Homo sapiens: one gene and its partners. The protein of the gene in region 1 purifies or fractionates together with the protein of each later gene. This does not show direct contact. Each region holds a gene or a part of one and is shown on either strand. Other genes may lie near its edges.

What was found.
Region 2: the proteins of SNX4 (region 1) and ABCB10 purify together in Homo sapiens (affinity purification with mass spectrometry; 2 studies listed by BioGRID and IntAct, with this or other methods). This does not show direct contact.
Region 3: the proteins of SNX4 (region 1) and ANKMY2 purify together in Homo sapiens (affinity purification with mass spectrometry; 2 studies listed by BioGRID and IntAct, with this or other methods). This does not show direct contact.
Region 4: the proteins of SNX4 (region 1) and CACYBP purify together in Homo sapiens (affinity purification with mass spectrometry; 2 studies listed by BioGRID and IntAct, with this or other methods). This does not show direct contact.

Annotation. Positions count from the first base shown.
Region 1 is NC_000003.12:125,453,598-125,461,335, forward strand, and holds part of SNX4 (sorting nexin-4), read right to left. Parts: intron 7,264-7,738; coding exon 7,174-7,263; intron 3,769-7,173; coding exon 3,669-3,768; intron 359-3,668; coding exon 213-358; intron 1-212. UniProt on the Homo sapiens protein: Involved in the regulation of endocytosis and in several stages of intracellular trafficking. Plays a role in recycling endocytosed transferrin receptor and prevent its degradation.
Region 2 is NC_000001.11:229,541,268-229,549,005, forward strand, and holds part of ABCB10 (ATP-binding cassette sub-family B member 10, mitochondrial), read right to left. Parts: intron 6,435-7,738; coding exon 6,232-6,434; intron 1,105-6,231; coding exon 970-1,104; intron 1-969.
Region 3 is NC_000007.14:16,600,140-16,607,877, forward strand, and holds part of ANKMY2 (ankyrin repeat and MYND domain-containing protein 2), read right to left. Parts: intron 4,773-7,738; exon of another isoform or gene 4,711-4,772; coding exon 4,582-4,710; intron 2,371-4,581; coding exon 2,241-2,370; intron 807-2,240; coding exon 622-806; 3' UTR 1-621. UniProt on the Homo sapiens protein: May be involved in the trafficking of signaling proteins to the cilia.
Region 4 is NC_000001.11:175,002,511-175,010,248, reverse strand, and holds part of CACYBP (calcyclin-binding protein), read right to left. Parts: intron 5,636-7,738; coding exon 5,416-5,635; intron 3,505-5,415; coding exon 3,408-3,504; intron 3,152-3,407; coding exon 3,052-3,151; intron 1,641-3,051; coding exon 1,543-1,640; intron 327-1,542; coding exon 170-326; 3' UTR 1-169. UniProt on the Homo sapiens protein: May be involved in calcium-dependent ubiquitination and subsequent proteasomal degradation of target proteins. Probably serves as a molecular bridge in ubiquitin E3 complexes. Participates in the ubiquitin-mediated degradation of beta-catenin (CTNNB1).

The DNA of each region.
Region 1 (7,738 bases):
CTCAGCCTCCTAAAGTGTCAGGATTACAGGCGTGAGCCACCACACCCAGCGTGATAACTCAAATTTCTTAGGAATGCATTTTAAAGGAATAGGCTGTATTCAGGGATGCCAATGAAGCTGGGAATTGTTACCAAAATAAATAAATAAATAAATAAAATAATCTACCATATAGTCTACAAGCCTAGCTTACTTAAACATCGCAGCATCTTTACCTGCCTTCCAGATTTTTAGACTTTAGCTGTTGTTCTCCTTCATTTATTTGTTCTTCTAGCACCTTTATTCTGGCTTCTCTCTGCTCTGGAGTTTCTTGACCAAAGAGCTTGGTAGTCATTCCCTTCAAAGAGAATGTTCTCACAGTCTAAAAGGAAACAGAAACAGATGAATGGATAAACAAAATGCGGCATACACATACACATACAATGGAACATTATTCAGCCTTTAAAAGGAATCAAATCTGATATATGCTACAACATGGATAAACCTGCAGGACATTATGCTAAGTGAAATAAGACAGATACAAAAAGACAAATACTGTATGATTCCACTTATATGAGACACCAGTGTTTACACTGTATTAGGTATTAATAATCTAGAGATAATTTAAAGCAGGGGGTCCCCAACCCCAGAGCCACGGAGTGATACCAGTCCATGGCCTGTTTGGAACCAGGCTGCATAGCAGGAGGCAAGCGACCACCTGAGCTCTGCCTCCTGTCAGATCAGCAGCAGAGGCATTAGATTCTCTTAGGAGCACGAACCCTATTGTGAACTGCGCATGTGAGGGATCCAGGTTGTGTGTTCCTTGTGAAAATCTAATGCCTGAGATGATCTGAAATGAAACAGTTTCATCCCGAAATCATCCTCAGCACCCCCTGCCCTGGTCCATGGAAAAACTGTCTTCCACAAAACAGGTCCCTAGTGCCAAAAAGGTTGGCGACTGCTGATTTAAAGTATACAAAAGGATATGCACAGGTTACATGCAAATACTACACCATTTTATAGAAGGGACTTAAGCATCTGAGGATTTTGGTATCCCAGGGATCCTTAAACCAATCTCACTGAAGATACTGAGGGATGACTGCACTACTGAACTATATACTTAAAAATGGACAAGATGGTACATTTTATGTTATATATATTTCACTACACACACAAAGGAAATAGAAAACATTTGCCATATTTCCCCTAAGTCAGACAAAACCACCATAAGCTTCACAACCAGGGATCTCTTATATGAGTTTTTATTTATTTTTACAGAGTCATAGCCAAGAATCCTAATAGAATTTCTAACACTGAAATAATATGGAGTAGTCAAAAAGAAGACACTTCTAACTGAATTTCTTTTTTTTTTTGAAATGGGGTCTTGCTCTGTTGCCCAGGCTAGAATGTAATGGCACAATCATGGCTCACTGCAGCCTCAACCTCCTGGGCTCAAGTGATCCTCCCACCTCTGCCTCCCAAGTGGCTGGGACCACAGGTGCATGCCACCACACCCAGCTAATTTTTAAATTTTTGGTAAAGACAGGGTCTAGCTATATTAATCCACACTGGTCTCAAATTCCTGGGCTCAAGCAATTCTGGGTTTACGCCTCTGCTGCTAAAGGTGTCGGGATTGCCATTGTAAGCTACCATACCCGGCTTGAATTTCATAATCAAATGGAAAACTTCCACGTGAAATATTAGACGTTATTTCTTACTCTGTATGAATGATATTTTAAAAATTACTTTATGTTATAAAAAAAGTCGATAAATTCACTAGGCAACTATGGAAATAAACCAAACTAAAGAAGCATATTTAAAATCTGCATAACTCAACGCTCAAACTTGGGCATCTATTAATAAAACAGGATACCTAAATCCAAGCATGGGAAGGCAACCCCAAGCTTCACTGCTTTAACATTTCCTCACTCTCTGGAGTTTACTGAAGAAAACACTTTTCCCTTGACATGTAGGATAGAGAACCAAGCTCCCTGAAAATGGCCTGGGAACTTCTCCCACTGAGTTTTAAAAATAAACCAAGGGCCTAGTTTATACATGTGTCCTGGTCACAAGTCTTTCCCCACATATATCTGTGACTTTTCACAGATGTAGCCAGTGGGTAATCTCTGTGAAAAGCACTTTTAAAACTATAGTGCTTGGCCAGGCGCGCTGGCTCATGCCTATAATCCCAGCACTTTGGGTGGCCGAGGCGGGCGGATCACGAGGTCAGGAGATTCAGACCATCTTGGCTAACATGGTGAAACCCCGTCTGTACTAAAAGTGCAAAAAAAAAATTGGTCGGGCGTGGTGGCAGGCGCCTGTAGTCCCAGCTATTCAGGAGGCTGAGGCAGGAGAATGGTGTGAACCCAGGAGGTGGAGCTTGCAGTGAGCCACACTCTAACCTGGGCAACAGAGCGAAACTCGGTCTAAAAACAAACAAACAAACAAACAAAAACTACAGTGCTTATTAACTAAGTAGAGACATTGCTGCTGGTTTACTACTTTCAGAATGTGTGTTGCTCACCATGATGGCTGATTTATTGCAATGAAATAACTGGAGTAGAAAGCTGATTATAAAAATGATCCAAGACTAATGCAATCAGGTACAGAATTTTCCTCACAAGTACTCACTGTAAGCATTAAAGAATAAAGTACATCAAAAGCTCCCTGTTAGGCGAGATGCACTGGTTCTAAGTGGGTAAGGCTTTTCAAAGTCAACTAAAATTTCTGCAAAGTACCTTGCAAAGTTAAACCTGATAAAGGTCACTGCATGTTTTTTCACTTGGACTTAGAAACCAGATGATAGACTAGGCATGGTGGCTTACCCCTGTAATCCTAGCACTTTGGGAGGCGGAGGTGGGAGGATCACTTGAGTCCAGGAGTTTGAGACCACCCTGGTCAACATGATGAGACTATAAACAAAATTAGCCAGGCATGGGGGCACATGCCTGTGGTCCCAACTACTCAAGAGGCTGAGGCAGGAAGACCACTTGATCCCAGGAGTTTGAGGCTTCCATGAGCCCTGATCATACCACTGCACTCCAGCCTGGGAAACAGAACCAGACCTTGTCTCAAAAAATAAAAATTAATAAAAACAATTTTTTTGAGATGGAGTCTTGCTCTGTCACCCAGGCTGGAGTGCAGTGGCGTGACCTCGGGTCACTGCAACCTCCGATTCCCTGGTTCAAGCAATTCTTCTGCCTCACCTTCCCGAGTAGCTGGGACTACAGGCGTGAGGCACCACACCTGGCTAATTTTTGTATTTCTAGTAGAGATCGGGTTTCACCATGTTGGCCAGGCTAATCTCGAACTCCTGACCTCAGGTGATCCACTGGCCTTGGCCTCCCAAAGTGCTGGGATTACAGGTGTGAGCCACCGTGCCCAGCCCAATAATTTTTTTTTTTTTTAAAACGAAACCGGATGATACTGATTACACCAGAGAAATGTTGGCAAAATTTCTTATAATTCTATACAGTACATGGTTTTAATGGCTTACATCATTTTGTATCAAGATAATAATAAAAGAATTATAAAGTTACTCACAAATTATTCCCCTGTAAAAGGTTCAGCCGTCCTGAGTATTGTAACTGGAACTGATTCTACAGGAGTGAGTTACTCACTCAGAGTGAGTGCTTGTGAGGAACATTCCGTGTTGCTACAGTATCATCAGAGGCCAAAAGGAAAATACTCACCCCAGTTACCAGTTCCTCACACTGCTGCTTCTTGGATGCTAAGTCCTGAGCAGCCATCTCCAAGTCATACTGCATAAGTTCATGTTTCCTGCACACAGCCCTACAGATGAAAAAATGTGCTGCCATTTAACTTTTCCTTTAACATGTCAAACATTTTTTTCAAGGGTAGAGGAGAACCATTCACAATGTCTCGCTAGGGCAGAATGTGTGTGCCCAGAATTTTCAAGTTTAAAATGTAGTAGCCCAACATTAAAAATGGAATCTAATGGAATCTAGCAGAACCTAACCATAAAAACTTCATATATTCTTTTTTTTTTTTTTTTTTTTTTGAGACAGAGTTTTGCTCTTGTTGCCCAGGCTGGAGTGCAATGGCGCGATCTCGGCTCACTGCAACCTCCGCCTCCCGGGTTCAAATGATTCTCCTGCCTCAGCTTCCCTAGTAGATGGGATTACAGGCATGCGCCACCACACCCAGCTAATTTTGTATTTTTAGTAGAGATGGGAATTCTCCATATTGGCCAGGCTGGTCTCAAACTGCTGACCTGAGGTGACCCACCCACTTCGGCCTCCCAAAGTACTGGGATTACAGGCATGAGCCACCTGTACCCGGCCAAAAACGTCATATATTCTTAACACAAAAAAAGTTGTTTTCCATATACTTGGAACATTTCTTTCAATAAACATGCCATTATCACATACATAAAACATTTTTTAATGTATGTGAGAACTACATACATAATGTATACATATGTATACATAATTACATACATAATGAACTACATACATAATTAGTTCTTACATAATGTAAGAACTAATGCTGTAATCTCACATAGCAACTGAGTATTCTTAGAAAAGATAATACCTCAAAGTTTTCTTCTTTGTGATTTAGAAATGTCTATTAGGTATTTTTTTTTTTTTTTTTTTGGAGACAAGGTCTCACTCTGTCACCCAGGCTGGAGGGCAATGGTGCAATCTCGGCTAAATGCAACCTCTGCCTCCTGGGCTCAGGCAATCCTCCCACCTCAGCCTCCTAAGTAGCTGGGACTAAGGCATGTGCCACCATATCCAACTAATTTGTGCTTTGTAGAGATGGGGTCTCGCCCATGTTGCCCAGGCTGGTCTCAAACTCATGGGCTCAAGCAATCCATCCACCTCAGTTTCCCAAAGTGCTAGGATTATATGCATGAGCCATGTCGCCTGGCCTAGAAATGTTTATTAGTTTTTATGATCATAAAAGTAATCCATGTTCACTGTAAAAAGAAAAGATTCGGATGGGCGCGGTGGCTCATGCCTGTAATCCCAGCACTTTGGGAGGCCGAGGCGGGTGGATCACGAGGTCAGGAGATTGAGACCATCCTGGCTAACACGGTGAAACCCCGTCTCTACTAAAAATACAAAAAAAGCCGGGAGAGGTGGCAGGCGCCTGTACTCCCAGCTACGCGGGAGGCTGAAGCAGGAGAATGGCGTGAATCCCGGGGGGCGGAGCCTGCAGTGAGCCGAGATCACGCCACTGCACTCCAGCCTGGGTGAAAGAGCGAGACTCCGTCTCAAAAAAAAAAAAAAAAAAAAAAAAAAAAAAAGAAAAGAAAAGATTCTAATACAGCAATGCACAAAGTAAAAAAAAGAGGCTGGGCATGGTGGCTCATGCCAGTAATCCCAGCACTTTGGGAGGTCGAGGTGGGCAGATCACCTGAGGTCAGGAGTTCAAGACCAGCCTGACCAACATGGTAAAACCCCATCTCTACTAAAAATACAAAAATTAGCCGGGCATGGTGGTGCATGCCTGTAATCCCAGCTGCTTGGGAGGCTGAGGCAGGAGAATCACTTGTACCCAGGAGGCAGAGGTGGCAGTGAGCAGAGATTGTGCCACTGTACTCCAGTCTGGGCAACAGAGTGAAACTCCAACTCAAAAAAATAAAAAAAACAAAATACAACAAGAAAGTTCAAGAACACTCTCTTTCCTCCAATCCCACTATCCAGATATAATCGGTGTTACCAGATAGTATATAATCTTTCAGAATTTAGCTAGGCATTGACAAATACCATATCCATGCACCCCAAATGGTTCCTACATCTTTTCTCAAATGGCTATACACCCTGGCCATCTTTCCATGTCAACATACATTAATCCCTTTTATAATTTTTAAGAGCTGCAGAGAATTCCACTGTACTCAGCAACTTTCTTTTTTGAGACAGAATCTCACTCTGTCACCCAGGCTGGAGTGTAATGGTGCGATCTCGGCTCACTGCAACCTCCACCTCCCCTGTTCAAGCAGTTATTCTGCCTCAGCCTCTCCAGCAGCTGGGATTACAGGCACCCACCACTATGCCTGGCTAACTTTTTTGTAATTTTAGTAGAGACGGGGTTTCACCATGTTGGCTAGGCTGGTCTCGAACTCCTGGCCTCAGGTGATCCATCCGCCTTGGGCTCCCAAAGTGCTGGGATTCAGGCAGGAGCCACCTCACCTAGCCAACTTTCTTTTGCTTGGTGACTTGAAAATACATTGGTGAGACTTCCTACTACTCAAAGCCCTAGAAGGAAAACGAGCTAACAATGTGCAGATGATTTCACACCAATCACCACAGAGGTAAGGGAATAGTGCTCTTGTTTTCCTAACAGAATTCTTATACTGCTTTTAAAAGCGACAGGACAGTGTTGGCTCATGCCTGTAATCCCAGCACTTTGAGAGGCCGAGGCGGGTGGATTACCCGAGGTCAGGAGTTTGAGACCAGCCTGGCCAACAACGGTGAAACCCTGTCTCTACTAAAAATACAAAAATTAGCTGGGTGTGTTGGCGGGCGCCTGTAATCCCAGCTACTCAGGAGGCTGAGGCAGGAGAATAGTTTGAACCCGGGACGTGGAGGTTGCAGTGAGCCGAGATCACGCCACTGCACTCCAGCCTGGGTGACACAGCCAAACTCTAGTCTGTCTCAAAAAAAAAAAAAAAAAAAAGTGACAGGACAACTGACCAAAAGCCACCTATTCTGGGAAAATAATTCCTTTTTCTAAACTGATCAGAAAAAAATATATTAACTTTTTCCTAGTCACGTAGGACTATCTAAAAGAGAATTCCCTTTGGCTCTGTAAAAGATAACATAAGAACAGATAAGAAAGTCCTTGTTACATAAGGACGTTGTACAAGCTACTGATAAGACACACAGAATAAAAATAGCAATATACAACATAGTAACAGATACTGTTACACACACTGAATCTGTATTTTGCTTCCAATCTTCAAACTGGAAAAAGTGGAAACAACAACATACAGGCACACTTGATGCCTGAGGCTGGCAGGTTTTATCAAAATGATGCTTCGAGGGCAGGCCTCATCTTACATGTTTATGCCTAGCACTCTGCAACACAGAGAAATACAATGAGACCTCATTCATTATCTGAGGGAATGCATTCATTTAAAAAACACTCTACTATCTGTACTTTACAGTGGCATATGAGGAGAGTGGTGAACAACCCTGTGGCTGCACCTGGAACTTTTATTAAACTTACCGCAATGCTTCTGCATAAAAAAGATACTCTTTTAACTGATCTGCATAATGTTCTTCATCTTCCAAAATATCATCAATAGAAGATGCATACCTGTTTTAAAAAAAAAAACACACATTGCATAGAGTTACTTTCATTGGAATACAAAGTATTAGGGTTCTAGAGAAGTGCAATTAGGCTGGGCGCAGTGGCTCACACCTGTAATCCCAGCACTTTGGGAGGCCAAGAAGGGCAGATCACTTGAGGTCAGGAGTTCGAGACCAGCCTGGCCAACGTGGTGAAACCCTGTCTCTACTAAAAATACAAAAATTAGCCGGAAGTGGGGGCGGGTGCCTGTAATCCCAGCTACTTGGGAGGCTGAGGCAGGAGAATCTCTTGAACCCGGGAGGAGGAGGTTGCAGTGAGCCAAGATCATACCAGTGCACTCCAGCCTGGGTGACACAGCAAGACTCTGTCTCAAAAACAAACAGACAAACAAACAAACAAAAAACAGCAATTCTAAGTGTGGCCCACAGATAATTTGCTACCCATCAGTGATGTTGTAAGTACAGACAGTGAGAATTAGCGT
Region 2 (7,738 bases), on another chromosome or scaffold:
CCAGGCTGGAGTGCAATGGCGCAATCTCGGCTTACTGCAACCTCCACCTCCCAGGTTCAAGCGATTCTCCTGTCTCGGCCTCTCAAGTAGCTGGGATTACAGGCACAAACCAGCACGCCCAGCTAATTTTTCTATTTTTAGTAGAAACAAGGTTTCACCATGTTGGCCAGGCTGGTCTCAAACTCCTGACCTCAGGTGATCCACCTGCCTTGGCCTCCCAATGTGCTGGGATTATAGGCATGAGCCACCGCACCTGGCCATTTTTAATTTTTGAAAAGATAACGTTGCACAGCACTGCAAAGCTAGATTTATTAAATTAATGAAACACTTATCTAGTAACTATTTTCAAAACCTGATTAACTGTTTTGTCCTATAACAAATAGTGATAGTGGCTAGGTATGGTGGTTCATGCCTGTAATCCCAGCACTCCGGGACGCCAAGGTGGGAGGATTACTTGAGCCCAGGAATTTGAAACCAGCCTGGGCAACACAGTAAGATCATGTCTCTACAAAAAATTTTAAAAATTAGTGGGCATGGTGGCATGGGGCGATAGTCCCAGCTACTAAGGAGGCTGAGGTGGGAGATCACTCGAGCCTGGGAGGTTAAAGCTTCACTAAGCTGTGATTGTACCACTGCGCTCCAGCCTAGAGTGCATGAAAAAACTTTTCTCATGTACCTTGTCTCAAAAAAAAAAAACAAAAAAAAAAAGAAAGAAAAGAAATAGTGATAGTAACAAGTGAGGACTCCATAAAATGTTTAGTGAAGTTAGATCTACTTTGAGATATGGGTAGAAATCTAGTCTAGAAAACAGAGTAGTTTAAGTTTCATGGATCTTGGGGTAATTTCTAATGAAAGGAAAGGCAGGCACTTCATTGAAAAACCTAAGTACATCCCTTAGGATCTGCCCTCTAGGATCCTGGCTATGACCCCATTCTGCTGGAAACCACGCGGACAGGAAGGGGCCTTTACCTGAGTGGCTTGTGCCAGGGAATCCTGAGTGACTTTGGTCAGTTTCCGTAGATATCGCCCATAAATTACAGCAATGATTGACACTGGAGGCACCACGCTCAAAACAAAGGTGGCCAGATTAGGTGAGACAAAAAACTGTCAAAAACAAAAAAAAATTCAGAGGTGTTTGTTACATTGGGTGGCAAGACATTCTCATTACCTACGAAAGGGGAGTGTGTGTGTGGGTGTGTCTGTGTGTGTGTGTGTTTAAATTAACAGCAGGCTTGAAGGTACTGTCCCCAAGTTGTTACATCCTGTTTTGATGGAATTTTTCAGACATCTTTATTCTTCACAAAACCCCATAAATATTCAGCATGCCACATAGAAGAAATGTGACAAGAAATTGCTGAAGAAAGAATCCTCAGGCCAATACTAGATCAGACCACGCGGTTTAACAACAGAGTGGGAAGAGACAGGATGGGGGTTTGGCAGAGGCCCATTCTGCTCCACGCTCCAGTCCACCTCAGGAGTTGTATATTCAGGTCTGAACCACCTGCAGGCACTGAACAACCACAGCAACACGTCCCATCAAAATGACCAAGATGGTGAAGTCACCAAAAAACCCCATTATCGGGTGGGGTGTGGTGGCTCACGCCTGTAATCTCAGTACTTTGGGAGGCCGAGGCGGGCAGATCACCTGAGGTCAGGAGTTCGAGACCAGCCTGACCAACGTGGTGAAACCCCATCTCTACTAAAAATACAAAAATTAGCTGGGTGTTGGGGCACGTGCCTGTAATCCCAGCTACTCGGGAGGCTGAGGAAGGAGAATCGCTTGAACCCGGGAGGTGGAGGTTGCAGTGAGCCAAGATTGAGCCACTGCACTCCGCCTGGGCAACAAGAGCAAAACTCCATCTCAAAAAAAAAAAAAAAAAAAACAGCACATTGCATAACAGTCAACAGAGGACTTGGAGGACACAACTAACAAGTCGAAGAAGAATTAGAGCTGCTTTTATGGCTCAGTGGACTGAAGTCAGCAGGATGGATCTGGGCTCAATATACTGAGGAGCTTCTAGCAATTGGAATTGCTGAAAGAATAACCTAACTTCTGGAAGTAAGTAACAGAGGGTTTTCCTGTCAACATTGCAATTTGGTGATTGTACTTTCAATAGTACTGGCATCTCTTCGACAAATTACTAAAATCTACCATATCTCATTTGCACAGAAAATAGTATAATCAGTACACGGCTAAATAATACTAAGGAAAAACTGCAAACTGAAACATAAGTGGATGGATCAACCAATCATTCACTCATTCATTTACTCATTCAACAAGTTATTACTGAGAGCCCACGTTACTGAGTGCAAGCACTATTCCAGGCACCTGGGAGATAACCAACCCTCACAGAGTTTTCATGCAAGAAAGAAGAGGTGAGACTTAGATAATAAACAAGTAAAAGAAAGAGAAAGTATCACTGCAGATGTAACACAATCTTGGAAGACCTCTCCCCCAAGAGGGAAGAGCCATTGCATAAAGGCCCTGAGGCAGAAAGGAGGTTGGCACCTTCACAGAGGAGCAAGCAGATGTGCATAGGAATGTCCCACCCTGAGAAGACAAGTCCATCAGGACACCTGGGGTGAGTCTTGGGGAACATAATCATATCTCTGATGGTCACCATCAGGACATGAGACCAACAGGGCAGGTCTAACACTTCTGGGGCCTGAACACAACTGATGTCAAAATGAACCAACTGGACAGGTGTCCTCTGTGTAGGGCAGGCACAGTCCATCAAGATTCTCCTAGAACTGTCCAGAACCACCCCCCTCCCTTCACTCTGGTTCCACACTTAATGAAAAACCTTCTGATGACTAATACAGGGTGCTGGCACCATAATGAAGTGTTTTGAATAGCAGAAATGGGCTAGGCATAGTGGCTCACGTCTGTAATCCTAGCATTTCGGGAGGCTGAGGCAGGCGGATCGCTTGAGCCCAGGAGTTCAAAACCAGTGGGCTGGGCAACATGGTGAGACACTGTCTCTATAAAAAATACAAAAATTAGCCGGGCATGGTGGCGCACGCCTGTGGTTCCAGCTACTCAGGAGGCTGACGTGGGAGGATCACTCGAGCTCGGGAGGCAGAGGTTGCAGTGAGCCAAGATGACACCACTGCACTACAGCCTAGGCAACAGGGTGAGACCTTCTCTCAAAAAAAAAAAAAAAAAAAAAAAAAGGAATAGCAGAAACACAACTTAATGGTGGGTAGGCCCACTATGTAAATTAATAAATTGGCAGTATGCCATACACAATATCAGGTTCTCATAACTGGACTTCCCCTATGTCAGGTCCATGAGTTTGTGCAGGAGAAACAAAGTCACATTTCTGATCCCCTAGAGCCAAAGATCAGATCCTAGGTGAAGCCACTTCCTGAGGCCCTTTTACAGACTGAATGGAAATTCCCCCTGAAATTCACATGTTGAAGCCTTAATCCCCACCATGGCTGTATTTGGAGATGGGGCCTCTAAGAAAGTAACTAAGGTTAAATGAGGTCGTTAAGTGTGGGGCCATGATCCAATAGGATTAGTGTCCTTATAAGAGACACTAGAGCACACTCTCTCTCCACTATGTGAGCACATGGCAAGATGGCAGCTGCCTACCAGCCAAGAGAAAAGGCCTCAGAATGAAGCTATTTTGCTAGCACCTTGACCCTGGACTTCTAACCTCCAGAATTGTGAGAAATACATTTCTGTTGTTTCAGCCAAGCCACAAGAAAAGGCCTCAGAATGAAACTATTTTGCTAGCACCTTGACCCTGGACTTCTAACCTCCAGAATTGTGAGAAATACATTTCTGTTGTTTCAGCCACCCAGTCTGTGGTATTATTATGGCATCCCAAACAGACCCCTTTGAATTGCTCATCTGACCTACACTGAATTCCCTTTCCTTGTTACAAAAAGTACCCCAAGTGATTTTTCCCAGCTTGAACTCTTCCTGATCCCCAAAACTATTCATATTTGGAAAACGGCATGTTAGTGCAGGAAGGGTCCTCTTCCAGAGGTTTGCTTCTCTCTTAGCTGGAAAATCATGAGATTTCAAAGCTGTTTTTCATTCCGTAAGTCAGATCTAATAGGCAACACACCCTTCCTCTCTAAGTGCTTCATGGGACACAAAGGACAGAATCCAAGCTTTTCCACTTGTGAGAAAGGATTATTTACAGTTCTTATTCCACGAGTCTAGAACTGCACTGCCCAAAACGATAGCCCTACTGGAAACTTGAAATGTGGCAGGTATGACTGAGACATTGACTTTTTAATTGTATTTAGGTTTAATTAAAATTTAAAAGCCTATACTCCATTCAGTTATTGGCAAACTATTAAGTATGTCTGGAAAACTTGAGTATGTCAAACTACTTTTTCAATTGTACATTTTATAAAATCTAAATATAGATCAAGTACTTTCAATGAAAATTTAGCATCCGAATTAAGATGTTCCTTAAGTAGAGAATACACACCAGATTTGGAAATTCAGTTGACCTTTGAACAACATTGGTCTGAAATGCATGGGTCAACTTATACATAGATTTTCTTCCATCTCTGCCACCCCTGAGACAGCAAGAACAACCTTTCTTCCTCCTCTCAGTCTACTCAGTGTGAAGACAATGAGGATAAATACTTTTGTGATGAGCCGGGCGCAGTGGCTCACGCCAGCAATCCCAACACTTTGGGAGGCTGAGGCAGGCAGATCACGAGGTCAGGAGTTCAAGACCAGCCTGGCCAACATAGTGAAACCCCATCTCTACTAAAAATACAAAAAAATTAGCGAGGCGTGGTGGCTGGCACCTATAATCCCAGCTACTCGGGAGGCTGAGGCAGGAGAATCACTTGAACCCGGGAGGAGGAGGTTGCAGTGAGCCAAGATCGTGCCATTGCACTTCAGCCCGGATGACAGTGCGATACTCCGTCTCAAAAAAAAAAAAAAAAAGCTTTTATGATGATCCACTTCCACTTAATAAATAATAAATATATTTTACCTTCCTTATGATTTTCTTAATACCATTTCTTTTTTCTAGCTTACTCTGTTATAAGAACATAGTATATAATACATATACCAAATACATGGTAATTGACTGTTAATGTTATCAGTAAGGCTTCTGGTCAACAGTAGGCTATTAGTAGTTGAGTTTTTAGGGAGTCAAAAGTTATACTTTGATTTTTGACTGTGTGGGCTTCAGTGTCCCAACCCCTGCATTGTTCAAGGGTCAACTATAATATGAAAGAAATAATATAAAATACCTCATTAATAATTTTGATATTAATTACATCTTGAGATGACAATATTTTGTTTATACTGGCTTAAACAAAACATTATTAAAATTAATCTCAGCCAGGTACAGTGGCTCAAGCCTGTAATCCCAGCACTTCAGGAGGCCGAGGCAGGAGGATCACTTGAGGCCAAGAGTTTGAGACCAGCCTGGGCAACATAGAGAGACCCTGCCTCTACAAAAAATATATATATATATTCTTTAAATTAGCCAGACTTGGTGGTGTGTGCCTGTAGTCCCAGATACTTGGGAGACTGAGGTGGGAGAATCACTTGAGCCCAGGAGTTTAAGACTGCAGTGAGCTATGATCTTGCCACTGTACTCCAGCCTGGGTAACAGAGTGAGACTGTCTCTAAAAAAATTAAAATTAAAAAAAAAATTAATCTCATTGGCTTCTTTTTGCTTTTTTAAATGTGGCTACTAAAACATTAAAATCACATATGTGGCTTGCATTGCCTCTCCAATGACCTGCAGCACTGGGCTGAATAGAAATACTGGTTGAAGAGGTAAGGCAAGCAGACAGGACAGGCACAAGCCACCCAGTTAAGGAAAGGAAAAAAGGCCATGGGAGTGAAGAGCTCTCCCCTTAAAAGAGCACAGTTCGACTTACACACACAGAGGAATGGAATTTAGTCACCGCTTGGTGCCACCCACAGGGTAGTACCCAGTGCTCCTTCTACCTGATGCTCTTTTCTGCCTTAATACCCCGGGTACACACATCTCAGAATACCCAGCAGTAACACATGAGTCCATTTTCCAGATAATCACTCATTCTGGAGAAATGAAGGTACAAGAGGCCATGCAGGCAGAGGCAATCCCCACGTTCCAGCAGCTTCTGCAACAGCACTTTTGGCTCTAGGCACTTACAGAATGATGCGAACCGCTCAGCTTGAGCTCGTCTCACACGTGAGAGGCCTGGTGCAAGCCAAGCCCTGGCAGGAAGGTACCAAGGGGAACCAGGCCCACATACCATCATACTGATGCCTACGGAAGCCTGGGCCCCGGCCCTGAGCCCATCTGAGAGGTTTTCAGTCACTGAGCGCCCCAGGAGTGCAGTGTCTGATGAGAGGCGGTTAATCAATTCTCCTGTGCGAGTCTTGTCAAAGAAAGCAACCTCCTGCCTCAGAATGGAGGAGAATAATGAAGTTCTCAGCCTATTCACAATGCGCTGACCTGCAAAAGCAAACACGAACAGGCTCACCAAGGGTAAAGACATCCATTACCATTATGGGGCAGCCACTTACTGTGCAGCAGCTTGGCCTGGAGTTGTAACCCTCCTGAGCAATGCAGCCTCTGAGCGTGTCTGCTGCACTGTATCCCATGGGTGGAAAGAGACTTTCCCAAACCAGGCACATTAACTGTCATGCACTACTAACACTACTTTTCTCTTATTAACTACAGACTGTGGGCGCTAGTGAGAGGATACAGGAATAAAATAAATATAACATGACTCAGAGGCCTTTTTTATTTTTACTTTTTTTTTTTTTTTAAGAGACTGGGTCTTGCTCTATCACCCAGGCCTGAATGAAGTGGCACGATCACAGTTCACTGTAACCTCAACCTTGTGGGCTCAAGCCATCCTCCCACCTCAGCCTCCTGGGTAGCTGAAACTACAGATGTCCGCCACTACACCCAGCTAACTTATTTTTATTTTTTATATAGACGGAGTCTTGCTATGTAGCTCAGGCTGGTCTCAAACTCATGGGCTCAAGCAATCCTCCTGCCTCAGCCTCCCAAAGTGCTAGGATTACAGGCATGAGCCACCACACTTGGCCGAGATTTTTTTAAGGTATTATTTACAAAGAAGTTTTATTACATTAACTTCCAAAAGCTCATTTTGTTCCTCCCTGGAAACCCTTTCCTGTATTGAACCTTCAAATGGCAAGAATTGGTTAATTATCCACAGAGATAAATGGAGAGCAACAGACTTCGAGTTGGTGTCCCAGGTTCTCTCATTATTGTGGCAGTGACCTGCCTGTAAAAACAAGACCTCTTCAGAGAAATACTAACAAAGTTATCATCCCAGCTGCTACTTAAGGAGAAACACAAGCATGGGGCATGTAAATGGGTTTCTGAAGCCTTCAGGAAGCCTCAGAAGTCCAGCTTCATGGCCAGGGGCCTCATTTTCTTTTTTTTTCTTTTTTTTTTTTTTGAGATGGAGTCTCGCTCTGTCCCCCATGCTGGAGTGCAGTGGTATGATCTGGGCTCACTGCAACCTCTGCCTCCCAGGTTCAAGCGATTCTCCTGCCTCAGCCTCCTGAGTAGCTGAGATTACAGGCACACACCACCACGCCCGGGTAATTTTTGTATTTCTAGTAGAGACGGGGTTTCACCATGTTGGCCAGGCTGGTCTCGAACTCCTGACCTCATGATCCACCTGCCTCAGCCTCCCAAAGTGCTGGGATTACAGGCATGAGCCACGGCACCCAGCCCGAGGGGCTTATTTTCAAACCTCCCATAAGACCGACATGATTGCC
Region 3 (7,738 bases), on another chromosome or scaffold:
GGAGGTACAAATACTGCAGATAGAATATCACCGCAGGACTACGTCAAGTTCAGAGTGTTCAGGATCATTTCTATATAAAACTACAATTAGCTGAACTATGGCAAAGGTCCTTGAACATAAAGCCTTTCTTCATTTCATTGCATCTTAATAAGTAGAATGCCACTACCGTAAATGCTGCTTATATGTATTTTATTCACATATAAGTTATGATTTTTCTAACTACCCTCTGTAGCTATAAATTTTTCCCTTCCTGAAAATCTCTCTTCCACACCTGTTCTGCTTGTCCCTTTGTTCCCTAAAGCCTGTATTTTTTCTTTAAGGGGATCTATTTTCCTTTGAAACAATTGCTGGAAAGCCAGCCTCAGAAAGGTAATAGGAATGTTTTTCCTGTATTTTGAAACAAAAAATTTTCCATAGGAATATCCATTCAATTATAGAACAGAAATCAATAGGAAATTAGGGCATGGTCAACAGGGGTTTGCTTGAAAACCTGTATTCTATGAAATGTGGAATCCTGCCATGGTGCCACGCAGGTATAACAAGGTGAGGACAATGCATTCCTAGGAGTTTTCCAGCTTCTTGCAGGGTGAGGATCATCCACACTGGCACTTGCTCTGGCTTTTACTCCTCAGACACCTGTGGCCCTGCAGGAGCATCCTGTAAGCCTTCCAACTCAGCTTCGCTTTCAAGAGATTCTTTCTTTCCTTCCCCGGAATCTTCAGGATTGGAATCCTTTTGAGAGATACCTACTTCAGCCTCTGGTTGCTCTTCATTAACACAGTTAGAATTGACATCAAGTTTGCCGTCTGATTAAAAAAAGAAGAAGTTATTTTGTTCCTACCATGTGTCAGACACTCTTCTCAATGCTTTACATGTATTATTTAATCTTCCTATCAACTACATGAGGTATATTAGTATCTCTACTGTCATCGCTAACGTTATTTTACAAATGAGAAAACTGAGAAGAGAGAGGTTTGGTAGCTTGCTGCAAGTTTCCTGGCTAGTGAAACAGCAGAACCAGCATTTGAACTCAGGCCGCTGGCTCCAAAGCCATCTCTAAATCAAGATTGTTGCTTGGGATTTGACAAAGCCTGTATTTGAATACAGCTTTTCTGTGAATTTATTTGATGTCCTTGGAGAGGTAATTGCCTGCATGAAGTTGTTTCCCTTGTCTATAATATGCAGGTAATAAAGGCTATCCTACATTGGTGAAGAATAAAGTTGTCTGTAACATTTAGAGCAGTGTTTGGTGCATGAATGATGCTTAACAACTGGGAGTGCCCATTCTACTGACAATCTTATTCTCCCTCAATAGTGTGTTAGTAATGAACATTTGTTACTTTCTGTCCTTAGCACATAGAATAAAAAAGTTTGGTCAAGAAAACAAGAGAAGGCATGGCAGTCAGAAAGCCTGACTATTCTCTTAAGGATAAATGGTTTAATTGTGTACAAACCATTTAATTCCACTGAGAGTATATCTCAACCCAGTAGTAAAGCGGATATGGTTCCTTGAGAGATGGAGGCAGAAATGCCTGGTATCAGAATAACCGAGGCATCTTTTTCAAATTACATGCACTCCCCCAGAACATATGATACATTCTCTGGAATGAGGCATGAGGGTGGGGGCAGTTCTCCTCTCCAATCTGATAATCACTGCTGAAGCAACTCACTATTTCTGATGAAAATGGGTCACAAAACCTCAAGAGGGATGGAGAAAAAAAAATACAAAATTCACTGCTATGACACTTGTAGAAATTTGATCTGTATATTAGATCTGCAATTTAATGAATGATTTATAAATATACTCTGTAATTTCACCTGTAGTTCTGAAATTTAATTAAGGAATTTAAAGGCTTCCACCCTTAAAATCTTCTGGTAGCCATTAGTGGAAATTTAATTAATTCCCTTATTCAAAGACTTTAAAATCCTTCATGAGCAGAATATAAGTTAATACCCATTAAGGGTCCCATTGTTCCAGGGCAGTAACCTAAGCTAGAATGTAAAATATGAAATAAGCTACATCCCTCAGAATTTGATGTCTCTGTTTTCCAGTGATGTCCAGGCTGACTATATCCTAAGAACTTAAAAACGGGACACATTAAAATTTAAATGTGATTCTTACATCGGTCACTCCTGAGCTCCTATGGCTTCCAGAGAAGACGCAGTTTCAGTGTGTTAAGATCACCTATCATCTCTCTCTCCACTAAAAAGCAGAGTGAACTCGGTTTTTATATACATACGGTTTTCCTCTTGTCTCTTTTCTTTGGCAGCCTCCAACTGTTGCTTTTCGTAAATGTCCTTCAGATTCTTACAGATTTTCTTATGAGTAAACCAGTGTGTTTTCTGGCAGGTTTGATCACAATATATTACCTGAAAGCAATTGTTGGTTTATTTTCATTTCCAGAGCTTGGGTTGTATGATTTCCTAACTATGACTAAACCAAGAACTAAGCTATAAAAATGTCATTTTCCATACTTTATTTTAAAACCATAATATGTGGTTGATATAGTTTGGATGTTGTCCCCTCTAAATCTCATACTGAATTGTGATCCCAAATGTTGGAGGTGGGGCCTAGTGGGAGGTGATAGGATCATGGGGGCGGTTTTCTCATGAACAGTTTAGCACCCTTCCCTTGGTGCTGTCCTCACAATACTGAGTGAGTTCTTACAAGATCTGGTTGTTCAAAAGTATGTGGCAACTCCCCCACCTCCTCTTGCTCCAGCTCCTGCCATGTGACATGCCTGCTCCCCCTTCACCTTCCACCATAATTGAAGGCTTCCTGAGACCTCACCAGAAGCTGAGCAGATGCCCATGCCATGCTTCCTGTATACCTTCAGAACCGTGAGCCCATTAAACCTCTTTTCTTTATAAATGACCCAGTCTCAAGTATTTCTTTATAGCAACGTAAGAACGGCCTAACACAGTATCTTTGTATTGATTTAGATTTATAGTTTGTAGCTTTACTTTAAAACAATAATGAATATATAACAAACAGTCTACCAAAGACTTTAGCAAATAGCTTATTATGAACCCGCTATGTGCCAGAATTGGTACAGTACAATGACAAGGAAGATAGAGTTGTCCCAAAGGTAGCTAGCATCAAGAAAAAGAAAGATATGGAAGAAGGGAGAGAGGCAGGCACCTAAATACATAATTTCTTAACACAGTACAGGATGTAAGAGTGATGGAGGCATAGAGGAAGCAGCAACTCACTCTAGCTGTGGTGAGTCGAGGTAGACAGAAAAATGGGAAAGAAGAATTCTAACTGGAGAAAATATCTAGTACAAAAATGCAGGAACAGGGAAGTGAATGATATGTTCAAGAACAGCAAGAAGTTTTTGTAAATGGCCTTATATTTTTGCAAGTAGGGGTGGAAAGGAGATGGGAATGAATGTTATTAAACACTTACTGTATGCCAAGCACTGTGGTAGGCCCTTATACATATATTGTATTATTGGCCCCAATTCTTCATTCATCCTTGCATTCATACACTTTCTCACATGATTTCAAAGTTCTCTGCACTGAAGGGGAGGAGACTTGACTTCAGATTGGGCCATGTAATTTGTTTCAACCAACAGCATGAAACAACATGGCAATTTCAAGGCTAGTCCTTGAGAGGTCTTCTGTGTTTCTACCTGCCCATGTGTACCTTTGCTATTGCCATGACAACATGCTCAGCCTAGCCTGCTAGTACAAGAAGGATGAGAGTCACATGGAGCACAACTGCCCCAGCTGAGAACAGCCAACCACAACTGTGAGAGAAAGACTAAATGATTATCATTTTAAGCACTGAGTTTGAGTGTGTTTTTATAAGCAGTAATAATTAACCAATATAAATAGTTTGATTTAATTCTGGAATTTCATTTAATTCAGGAAACAGGTTCAGAGAAGTAAGTCATTAAACAAGATGAAGCTGAAGAAGTAGGTCACAGCAGATTATAATGGGTTTCATACAACATGCTGGAGAATTTCAACCTTAAAGTCAACAGGCAGTTGATGCTACCTATGGGATTAAGTGAATGTACGGACACATGCATGTGTCCAGTATCTGGATATGAGAACAACACAATCAGATATGCCTTTTACAAAGATAATTCTGGCAGAAGGGGGCAGTACAGTCCATAGGGATTAAAGACTGGTAACAGTCAGAAACTATAGTTTTACAAGGATATGTTGATGAAGACACTGTCATTAAAGTCAACATCAGAAGAGTAAAGAATGTATATTTATGAACTGTCCTATTCTAGGTTTCACATCTGCACCAGCCTTGGTCTCGTGCCCCACGGAAAACCTTTCTCTTATTTTCTCATATTCATTCATTCATATCCTTTCTTTCCATGAGGTGATCAGCAAAGAGGCAAAGGAAGACTGGCAGTTTAGCAGAAGACAGACACAGTAAAGAACTATATTGATCCTATTAATTCTTTTCCAAAACTACTTTTTAAGTATTAAATAGAATATTTTCGTTACTAGAATTTATTAGAAAACTAATGTCCACTCTTACAGAATATTAAAACTCAATCATCAGCTTGGCTGCATCTAAACCAGAGGTCAATGAAATAAAAAGAACTCCATTCTTACCATTTTGCAAACTGAACATCTTTTACTTGCTCCCTTTTCTCCACAGGTAGTGCAAAATTCCACATCCACAAAACCCACCTGGCCAGTGATGGCTTGGGTAAGGACGGAGAATGCAGTGGGATCAGAACCCTAGAGTGGGCATGAAGAGGAGAAAAAACAAATTCTGAAATCACCATGGAAACACTACAGAGGTATCAGCCCACGGACACTGCCGTCCTACAATGTGACACAAAAAGGAAGAAATCATTAAGGCTATAGATTACACAGGCTTTAAGACAAAATGACAAAAATCTTTTAGAATATACCATTTTCTGTACAAAACATATGAAAAGTCAGTCATATGTCCAGATAATTAAAGAGAAAAAAACACCCTTAATCTAGAAAAAAAGTATTTTTCCAATAAGGATAATTCAGTAAGCCCATAGCGTTTCAGATTTAGGACAATAACTCCAGAGCAGAATTTTTTTCTGAGAACTGACATCCAGAAAATATTCATATTCCATGAGACAATTATAGGGCACATCAAAAATGTTTAACTGTCTTAATTCTGAAAAGTTTAGTACAATCTAAGTATTTTAAAGACAATATATTTAAACTCATTTACTTGATGTTGGCTTGTAATTCAAATAAATTATCACCATTATAATTGGTATGTTCCAAATTTGTTAAGAAACACACATGCAGCAATTGAATCAAAGTATTAAGAAAAACCAAATGTGTGAAACTTACTACTAGTGGGCAATGGAAAATTAAAATAGGTTAAAAAATATTTATAATTTTTATCTATTTTTATTTTTTTGAGATGGAGTCTCTGTCACCCGGCTGGAGGTGCAGTGGCTCGATCTTGGCTCACTGCAACCTCCGCCTCCCAGGTTCAAGCAATTCTCCTGCCTCAGCCTCCTCAGTAGCTGGGATTGCAGGCGCCCGCCACTACGCCCAGCTAATTTTTTGTACTTTTTTTTTTTTTTTTTTTTTTTTTTGAGACGGAGCCTCGCTCTGTCGCCCAGGCTAGAGTGCAGTGGTGTGATCTCTGCTCACTGCAAGCTTTGCTTCCTGGCTTCATGCCATTCTCCTGCCTCAGCCTCCCAACTAGCTGGGACTACAGGCACCCGCCACCACGCCCGGCTAATTTTTTTGTATTTTTAGTAGAGATGGGGTTTCACCGTGTCAGCCAGGATGGTCTTGATCTCCTGACCTTGTGATCTGCCTGCCTTGGCCTCCCAAAGTGCTGGGATTACAGGTGTGAGCCACCACACCTGGCCAATATTTTGTAATTTTAGTAGAGACAGGATTTCACCATGTTGGCCAGGCTGGTCTCAAACTCCTGACCTCGTGGTTCGCCCGCCTTGGCTTCCCAAAGTGCTGGGACTACAGGCATGAGCCACCGCGCCTGGCCTATAAACTTTTTTTACAAAGAAAATTATAAGGGGCTGGGTGTGGTGGCTAGCGCCTGTAATCCCAGTACTGTGCGAGGCCAAGGCAGGCAGATCATTTGAGGTTAGGAGTTTGAGAGCAGCCTGACCAACTTGGTGAAGCCCCGACTCTACTGAAAATACAAAAATTAGCCAGGCATGGTGGCACGCCTGTAGTCCCAGCTACTTGGGAGGCTGAGGCAGAAGGATCACCTGAGTCCGGGAGGCAGAGGTTGCAGTAAGCCGAGATCGTGTCACTACACTCCAGCCTTGGTGACAGTGCAAGACCTTGTATTTAAAAAAAAAAAAATTATAAGGGTAAGCATTTATCTGTCTGAGACGATGCTACTAAAACCTATTTAGCAAAAAATAATCACAGCGTTTCTATTTTTCTTACCTACTCCTAATAGTTCTTTGTTCTGAGTTTTTCAAATTTGTTCATTTGTTCCAAACCAGCATTTTGACACTCTTTATAATTTTCATTTTCATTTGAGTATTTGCTTTTTCTTCCTAAGAATATTTGTTTTTATATTATCTTACCAACTGTACATAATAGAGGTTTAAAAATATCACCTGGTAACAATGTCCTACACTGTTCTGTATACTCAAGATAGTCAAAGAAAATATTCAAAGATTCAAGAAGTATTTTAAAAGTAGCACTCATTTTGAAACTACCATGTTCTTCTTGAATACAAATAATAATGACTGGGTCTGCTTTCACATGAAAGTGCTACGAATTCTCTTTTGTGCTGAGCCTTGAGACAGGCAGAAGCCAGAGTTCCACAGCAGCAGAGGGAACCAAAAGCTGAGCAGGAGGGCCCAGGCATTAGCACTGTCAGAAAACAACACAGTGAAGCTCACAGCAGCCAGCCCTGAGAACCATCGTATGCGGGGAAAAGGTTGGGCATCACTTCAGAGGGTTAGAACTTGCAGAATATGAAAACCAATTAGGCAGTAAACAATGGCTGTGATACGCACAATCACAGGCATTTGGGATGAAGTCTTCCAGACAGAAGAACATAAAACTCTCAAAGAACAAAAATGTTTAAAGAAAAGTCTTTCTAAAATGCATTAAATACTATCTTAACTTTATTATAAACCTTTTCTTGATGACTCAGATCACTGGGATAAACATTAATCATTATACTCTAGGCCGGGTACGGTGGCTCACGCCTGTAATCTCAGCACTTTGGGAGGCCAAGGCGGGCAGATCACTTGAGGTCAGGAGTTCAAGATCAGCCTGGCCAACATGGTGAAAACCCGTCTTTACTAAAAATGCAGAAACATTAGTCGGGCATGGTGGTGTGTGCCTGTAGTCCCAGCTACTCGGGAGGCTGAGACATGAGAATCGCTTGAACCCGGAAGACTGAGGTTGTAATGAGCTGAGATTGCGCCACTGCACTCCAGCCTGGGTAACAAAACAAGACCCCCCTCAATAAATAAATAAAAATAATAATAATTATACTCTATAAACTCTAATTACATTATTCTATTATATGGAGCTAGGATAACTTGTTGACCACAATATTGACCTGCTTTTTTTTTTTTTTTTTTTTTTTAAAGAACTCTGGGTTGCTGTTTTAGTTTTTCTGTTTTTTCCCAGGAAGGTAAAAGGTCAGCAACCATTTGTGAGTGCTGGAAATCCCACATAACAGGTACTGCTAGTTGCTTCTCTGATATCAATTCTCCCAGCTTCCTCAGTAACAGAAGTGTAATTTTGTTCAGAGGAGGAGTGTTTAGAAAAG
Region 4 (7,738 bases), on another chromosome or scaffold:
TTTATTTAAATAAATCCTCCAGTAGGAAATGGAGAATTCATTGCCTTTACTTAGAAGGCTATGTAAATAGCTATCTGTCAAATTTATATATGCAGCTCACCAATATTCCCTTACTGGAAACATCAGTATTTCCACATCACATCACAGTTCCCAAAACGACTTTAAAGTCTCAAAATTCCGTGTCTCCTTTGGCTTGCTTCTCTCTTGATTCCACCCAGGCTTTATTAATGGTTCGCTTCATATCATCGTCTCCATCTTCATAAATTTTCTTTAGAACATTCATCAATCCCTCACTAGGATCTGTTTCAGTGTCATAGGAGGGCTTCCTTTAAAAAGAAAACATATACAACAATGGGGAAACGAAAGCACCGGAAGATACTATCATTCAGGTTGTTAACACTGGCAGGAAGTAGAGGGATAAGAAGGAAGACAGAGTACCCAAAGATATTTACAATCAAAACGGCACGCACAAATTCATCTTAATGAAAACAACACACACGTATCAAGCATGCACACACTTGGTGCACGAAAGAGGTCATCAAAATAGTTAGGGGCTATTTTTAGGCACAGGGATTTCCCATGATTTTTTTTTTTTTTTTTTTTTTGAGACAGTCCTGCTCTGTTGCCCAGGCTGGAGTGCAGTGGCGCATCTCGGTTCACTGCAACCTCCGCCTCCCAGGTTCAAACAATTCTGTCTGCCTCAGCCTCCCGAGTAGCTGGGATTACAGGCACATGCCACCATGCCCGGCTAATTTTTGTATTTTTAGTAGAGACAGAGTTTCACCATGTTGGCCAGGCTGGTCTCAAACTCCTGACCTCAGGTGATCCGCCCGCCTCAGCCTCCCAAAGTGCTAGGATTACAGGCGTGAGCCACCCCACCTGGCCTCCTGTGATTTTTGACAGGTAAAATAAGAATTTGATTTTCTAACTTGTTTTCATTTTTTAAAAGCATGTTTCCTCATAATTTGAAAAAAAACACTTGAGGGAAAATCATAAACATTACACATGGATGTACCCTGAAGCTCATGTATTTTTTAATTAGAAAAACTCTCCTCTTAAGCCTGAGATACACAGATCTGGGCCTGGGTCTTGAATTAATTTAGTCAGTACCTTTAGAAGATGAACTGACCTAGAACGCAAGTATCATTGAATACACATTTTTAAAAGGTCATTATTAAGAAGGATAAAAATATTTTATCTTTTTCACTATAAACCAGTGACAATGAAAACTACGCATCAGAAGCATCTGAGAAATTTAAAACATACAGGGGTACCTAAGCCCCTCTCAAACTACCGAAACAGAGTATCTGGGAATGGGCACAGTTATTTGTATAGAAGCACAACTGCGCCTAGGGTTAAGAACCACACTAAAGAGCCAACCCTTAACTACAAAGACCTTAAAAAGCAACTTGCTGGACGTGCCCTCTTCAGGTAGTTTGACAGTTGAAAGCAGAAATACATTATCCATAAAGACAAACTATTAAAAATCCATGATCTCAAACAATACACTAAAATTCTTTAAAAAAATGGAAGTAGACTCACTCTTTTTCTTTGCACTCCTTTTCAACCTGGGTCAGGTAATCCCACCTTGTGTTTTCCACTTTCTTTCTACACAATATAAGAACTGTATCAGTCTTGACCTGGAAGAAAAGCAGGAAAACAAATACAGCTTAGAAGACATGGAGATAAGCATGAATATTTATAAAACAATTATCTATTCAATTGATCAAGTCCCTAGTATGTATAGACTTATTTTGGGTGCCAGTAATACTTGTATGAATAGGCCAAAATCTGAACATTCATGGTGTGAAAAGACCATAAATAAGTAAAACTTGAATACCCTGATATCCTGGAAAGTGCTATCAAGACAAAGCGGGTGTTAATGGGGGGTGGGGGCAGGAACTTCATTAGGAAGGCCTCTCTGAGGCAAATCTGAGCCGAAGCCTAAGGTCAGGAGAAGGCAGTTGGCAGAGCATGCAGAATGGCTCCAAGATGGGATCATCTTGGTGTGTTTGAGGAGCAGGAGGAGTGGCTGGATTTTAGTGACTGAAAAAGACAGTAATATAATAAGAGGGGTCGGGGATAGGCAAGAAACCAAGTCGTATAAGGCAGTATGGGGCAAGGTGAGGCATTTGAAAGTGAGAAAGAAGGGCAATGTACAGGTCTTTTAAACAATGATCAATACTAGGGATCTTTTGGTACTCTACCTATGGGACTAGCGGATGCAGAAGGGTGCAGTAAGACAGCGAATCCAACTATATTTGAGTATCACCTGTAAGCTGTTAAGTAATTATGTATTATAAAAACAGATGGCAGAATGTCATGTCTATATACCTAACGCATTAAACTTCATTTATTCACATTAGGCAGAAAACAGGGACTATCTGATTTAGTAAAAATTACAAAGAGTAGTTTTTAAAAGACAGTTTCCTTATTTTTATAGCTGCTTCTAACTCCAAGGAGGCTAAGTGCTTAAGACCTCCTTTTATGTATACGAGTATTATGCACAATGCTAACACTAGCATTAATTTAAGCACTTTACATAATGGTATTGCACTTCAGTGTATCATTTCAACTTTGTGAAATAAATTATTACTATCGCATAAATGCAGAAACTGAGGCACAGAGTGATTAAGCTGCCAAAGGTCACAAACAATAAGCTGTAAACCTGGCATAAAACTCAAGTCTCACTCTTAACTACCTTCAAACGTTTACTTCCTCCCTGATTTTAATGGAATATTCTTACAATAGCCTATTCTACAAAAGGAGTTGGCAAATGTTCTCTGTCGAGGGCCGCATAGTAAATATTTTAGGTTTCATTTAGGGCCATATGGTCTGCTGTAGCCACTTAACTCTGCCATTGTAGCACAAAAGCATCCACAAACAACACATGAACAAATAAGCCTGGCTATGTCCCAATAAAACATTCACAAAACAGGCGGTGGTCCCTGTTACAGAGGACAAATTCATTCCAGTTCATCTCAGTTCTAAATCAGCCAGGTTCAATTTGGTAAGGTTTCACAATATTACAATCAAAAAAAGCACACTCACTTTTTTTGAACTGCCTTCCACAGAGATGGGTTTCAAGAGATTGTTCACAATCATGGAGTAACTCTTCCCATTTAGATTCTTTACCAAAAGATCAAATGACCTGCAACACAATGGTGAATACATCATCTTTCTAGTTCTATGAAAGGTACCCTTACTCCATAGTTCTTGTGGGAAAAAAGCTGCTGGCTTTATTTCAGGGTGTGCATTTGGCCAGTTAACGCTCACCTCTTCAAAGTAGTTGTAAAGGATAATTAATTCTAAATTTAAGAATTTTAAAAACTGCAAAGAAGAGAGTCTCAAGATAAGGCAATGTTGACTGTTAATTCACTGTCTTTCCCATTATAATGAGAACTCACCTCTCTGTGAAATGCACCTGCACATTCTCAGTGGGAACTTGATGAACTCCAGTTAAGGTAATGTAGATTTTCACAAACTTATCTGACTGATCCCATCCTGGCAACGACAACAAAAGATGGGACGTAAGTAAGCCTCTGAAACTATCTTTAGAACAGCAAATGCACATGGCTCATAAGTCAGGAAAGTAAAATTATGAAAATCCAGTCATATAAACATGAAAAAATTTGAAATATAAGAAATTTTCTAGGTTGAGAAATGGAGCCTCAAAGCAGTTAAGTACTCTACCCAAAGCTAGGCATCTAACAAGTGGTAGAATTCAGATTCAAATCCAGGTTTCTGAATACAAAACCTATGCTCTTTTTATCCCTCAGAATAAAAATATGATCACTAAATACATTCTTTAAGATTAGTTCATTTACAGCTTTTATGGAAACAATTTTGTCCGACATCTAAATATTGGTAGTTCTCCACTAAGCTGGATGGCTAAGTATCAATACTAATTCCATAACCATTTCTACTTCTGTAAGTAGTCAAACAAATGGAATCCTAGCTCTCTTAATTCCTTTCCAGGGCAAAGTAGAATGTAAAAGACTCCAATTCTTCATCCAAATCTGACAAACCTACTGGTATCTGTTAAATGCCATTTCAGTATGTATTATCAAACTACCAGCACGTCTCTGACCTAGAAGAACTCTGTCAACATAAAAGACATATATATAAATACTTCACAAAATACCATCACATTTGTAGAAAATAAAAAACTTCACAAAAAAGCATCTTCTGTTTATCAAGAATATATACATACATATCCCTGACTATTGCTCACTTAGTCCTATAGAATAGAAACATGCCCCATCCTCCATGACGTTTTTCACATTGCATGCCTATATCAAACATCTCATGTACCCCATAAATATATACACCTACTATGTACCCTCGAAAATTAAAAAGAAACAGTGTTGATGAAAAAATGCCCTAGTGGGGTCCAGAGAACTTCATTTATTAATAGTTTCTTCCCATTCAGTCAGTCCATCCTCCGGATTGACAAGTTTCTCCCTCAACACAAATCTATGTTCCTGGTTAAAATACCATAATCCTCAACACCTTCAGACCAGTTTCCTATACTCAACTGAGTACACGGTGCAATTTCCTATATTACTATATAGTACATCTCTTAAGCACGACATACACATGCTTTTCACTATTAACAATATTCAAAATAGATCATGCCTTCCAACTCTCTATTCACATTCTCTGCTCATGCTGTTCCCCTCCTTTTTGACTTGCTGAATGTACGACTCACCCTTCACACTCAAATCTCTCTAATTCTCCCTGTTCCTCACCTCCAGAATTATTTCTTCAGCTATGTTACCTATTATGTGCTAGACATTATTAGCACAAAGAAAAACAAGACTGTCCTTGCTCCAATGAGAGCTCATCATTCATATTCAAGTTGCGCTGCCGCCAAAACAAAAAACTGTATACACCATTGAAGGAAAACAGTATTACTACATTGTTATACTACGAGTTATACGTCAATGTCCCAACCACAACATGAGCAAGGACTGGGTCTTAGTCACTGTTGTGTATCCGTAAGTCAAAGCACAATAGTGATACACATTAGGTGCTCAAAAATATTTCCTGAATTTAACTGGATTCCTCTCCTCAGTTAATTGTGGTGGTTGGCAGAGTGAAACATAAAACATGATTAAAAACCACCACCACCACCACCACCACCAAAGCTGTGTCTTATACTGAACAATTTCAGAATAAGTTCCTTCCTTGTTGTTACATTTTGTAGTGAATCACCTTACTCTTGTTAACAGCTTCTAGAACGCATCCTTTCCTATTTATATCTTAAAAAAGTTTTATTAAATAAAAACTGATGGGTCTTGCTCCAAACCACCAAAAACACAGACTCAAAACTCATTGGGGATGAATTTGTTAGACCACTATGAGGAATAGGTTGCTCGGAGGCAGAACTGGCTATAGGGAAGCAAGTCATACCATAATTACTGATTTTCACCGTATAGCCCGTTGTAATGGGAGCAACCACAGCAGCTGGTTTTTCATTATCAAGAAGTTCTGCTTTCTTCTGTGATTTCTGTTGCATCTTGTTCTTGATTTCTGTCTCAATCTTGGATTTTTCAGCTGTAAGGGCATCACGTACTCTTTTCCTAGTAGCCTTTTCCAGCAACACCTTTACCTCTTCTAGATCTTTCTGTAGCTGTGTTAAGACAAAAAATAAGTTAGCTATGATAAATAAGGAAATGGCTTGATATTGTGCGTATCACTCATTTCAACTTACTGAAATAAGCACTAAGAATTAAGAAGTTCATCTAAATTTTCTAGGATTGAGTTGCAACTTCAATTCTTCCATCTGGCTTATTAACTGTAATTAACTCAAGCTTCCTTTTTTTCAAAAGGAAAACTTTGAACAATCTTGAACAAACAATAAATAGGTCTTCAAACCTAAATTTTCCAGTTTATGTTTTAAAATATTTACAAGAAACGTCTGCGACCTAAAAAGTAAAACAAAGAACTTTTTTTTGACAAAGGATTCATAGATTTCCTTGTAACATCTAATCCGAGTGTCATTAGATGTTAGACACTTTTAAAATATTTAAGAGATGAGAGAACATGCAGTGACCATGGTAAAATGCTTTTATAGCAAACTTAACTGAGGTAATGAATGCTCCACTTTCTGTCACTGATTGGTCTTCATTATCTTCCCACCTCAAATACCTCACATAAAAAAAGTCTTAATTTTTAAGACAAAAGATAAAAAAAAAAATTTCTGCTTTTGAGGAAAAGTCTTGCTCTGAAGCTGGGTCAGTCTTACACTCAGAAGTGTAGGAGTTGGTTGCACAGAAGGTGACAAAAGACCGAAAATGCAACATACTCTTGGAAATTATCTTTTGAAAAAGCCACCACGTTCTCATTTTCTTCTCTTGCCAATCCATCATCTATTAAAGTCTACTACTTTCTACTTTCTAGAGATAGAGGCAACATTTTATGAAATTCAAGAGTTAAAGACAATGTTAGAAAATTATTGAGCCTAAGTTTTTTTTCCCCCAATTACCCTCTGACATACTGCAAATACACAAGATCTTTCCAAACAGCTGTTTCACTTTTCTTACAATAACTTTACACTCTGGCTTGACACTACCAACTTGACCAAAAAAATCTTGTGTCACAGCTTGATATCAAAAGCTCAATTTAAAAAAGTCTTTTAGTGCTTTATAACTCAGAATATCAGACGCACAACAGAGTTTGAAAGCCTGTTTCTTAATAGTCTTATAAAATGCAATAACAGAACTAATTCTTTTCTTTTACTACAAGTCTTTTGTTATCTCATTTAACTCAGATGCCCTAGTTTTGCCTATCTATAACAGATGACATGGTATAAAAAGTTCAACTCTGGCCAGGTGCAGTGGCTCACACCTGTAATCCCAGTACTTTGGGAGGCCAAAGCGGGTGGATCACTTGAGGTTAGGGGTTCGAGACCAACATGACCAACACGGCGAAAGCCCGTCTCTACTTAAAATTCAAAAATTTGCCGGGTGTGGTGGCACGTGCCTGTAATCCCAGCTACTCGGGAAGCTGAGGCAGAAGAATCGCTTGAACCCGGGAGGCAAAGGTTGCAGTGACCCGAGATCGCGCCATTGCACTCCAGCCCGGGCAACAAGAGCAAAACTCGGTCTCCCAAAAAAAAAAAAAAATCAACTCTGCCCAACCCTCTTGTCCACACTCTCGACCCTTCCAAGAACAGCTCATATTACTATGACAAAAAATCTTGCAAACTCATCTTTTGAGCATAGAACCAAAATGTTTCAGTTCAAAGTAATATTTTTATTGTAATGGTTTCAAAAAAACGCTGATTCTACAACTCCTAATTCATAATAAAAATATTGAAATGTAAAATGAAATATATTAAGTCTAAGCAAGAGGTTTTGCTTTTTGACTGAAATAGGAATACTTTATCTAGCAGAATGAGAAAGGTACTTCGAATTAGGCAAGGGATTCCCCCAATGGCTGAATTCCCAAGCCCTCTTTATTGCCAGTTTTGACTCTAAAGTACTCTTTTTATTATGAAGTATCCACTGAAAAAACTTAAAACTGAGACAGTTCCTCAGTTCTGTTATTGGCAGACTTGAAACCAACAAAGGTGATTCCTTTGATGCTTTTTCTGCACAAATACTTTAAGATGTCCTAGTTTCCTATCTAATTTATCATGTAATTTTCCTTGCCTTCTTGGCATGTGTTTGTTTTACGTATATAAAAATTTTATTTCTCTTTTATCCCTACCCATAAGGCATTCAAGCTTTAT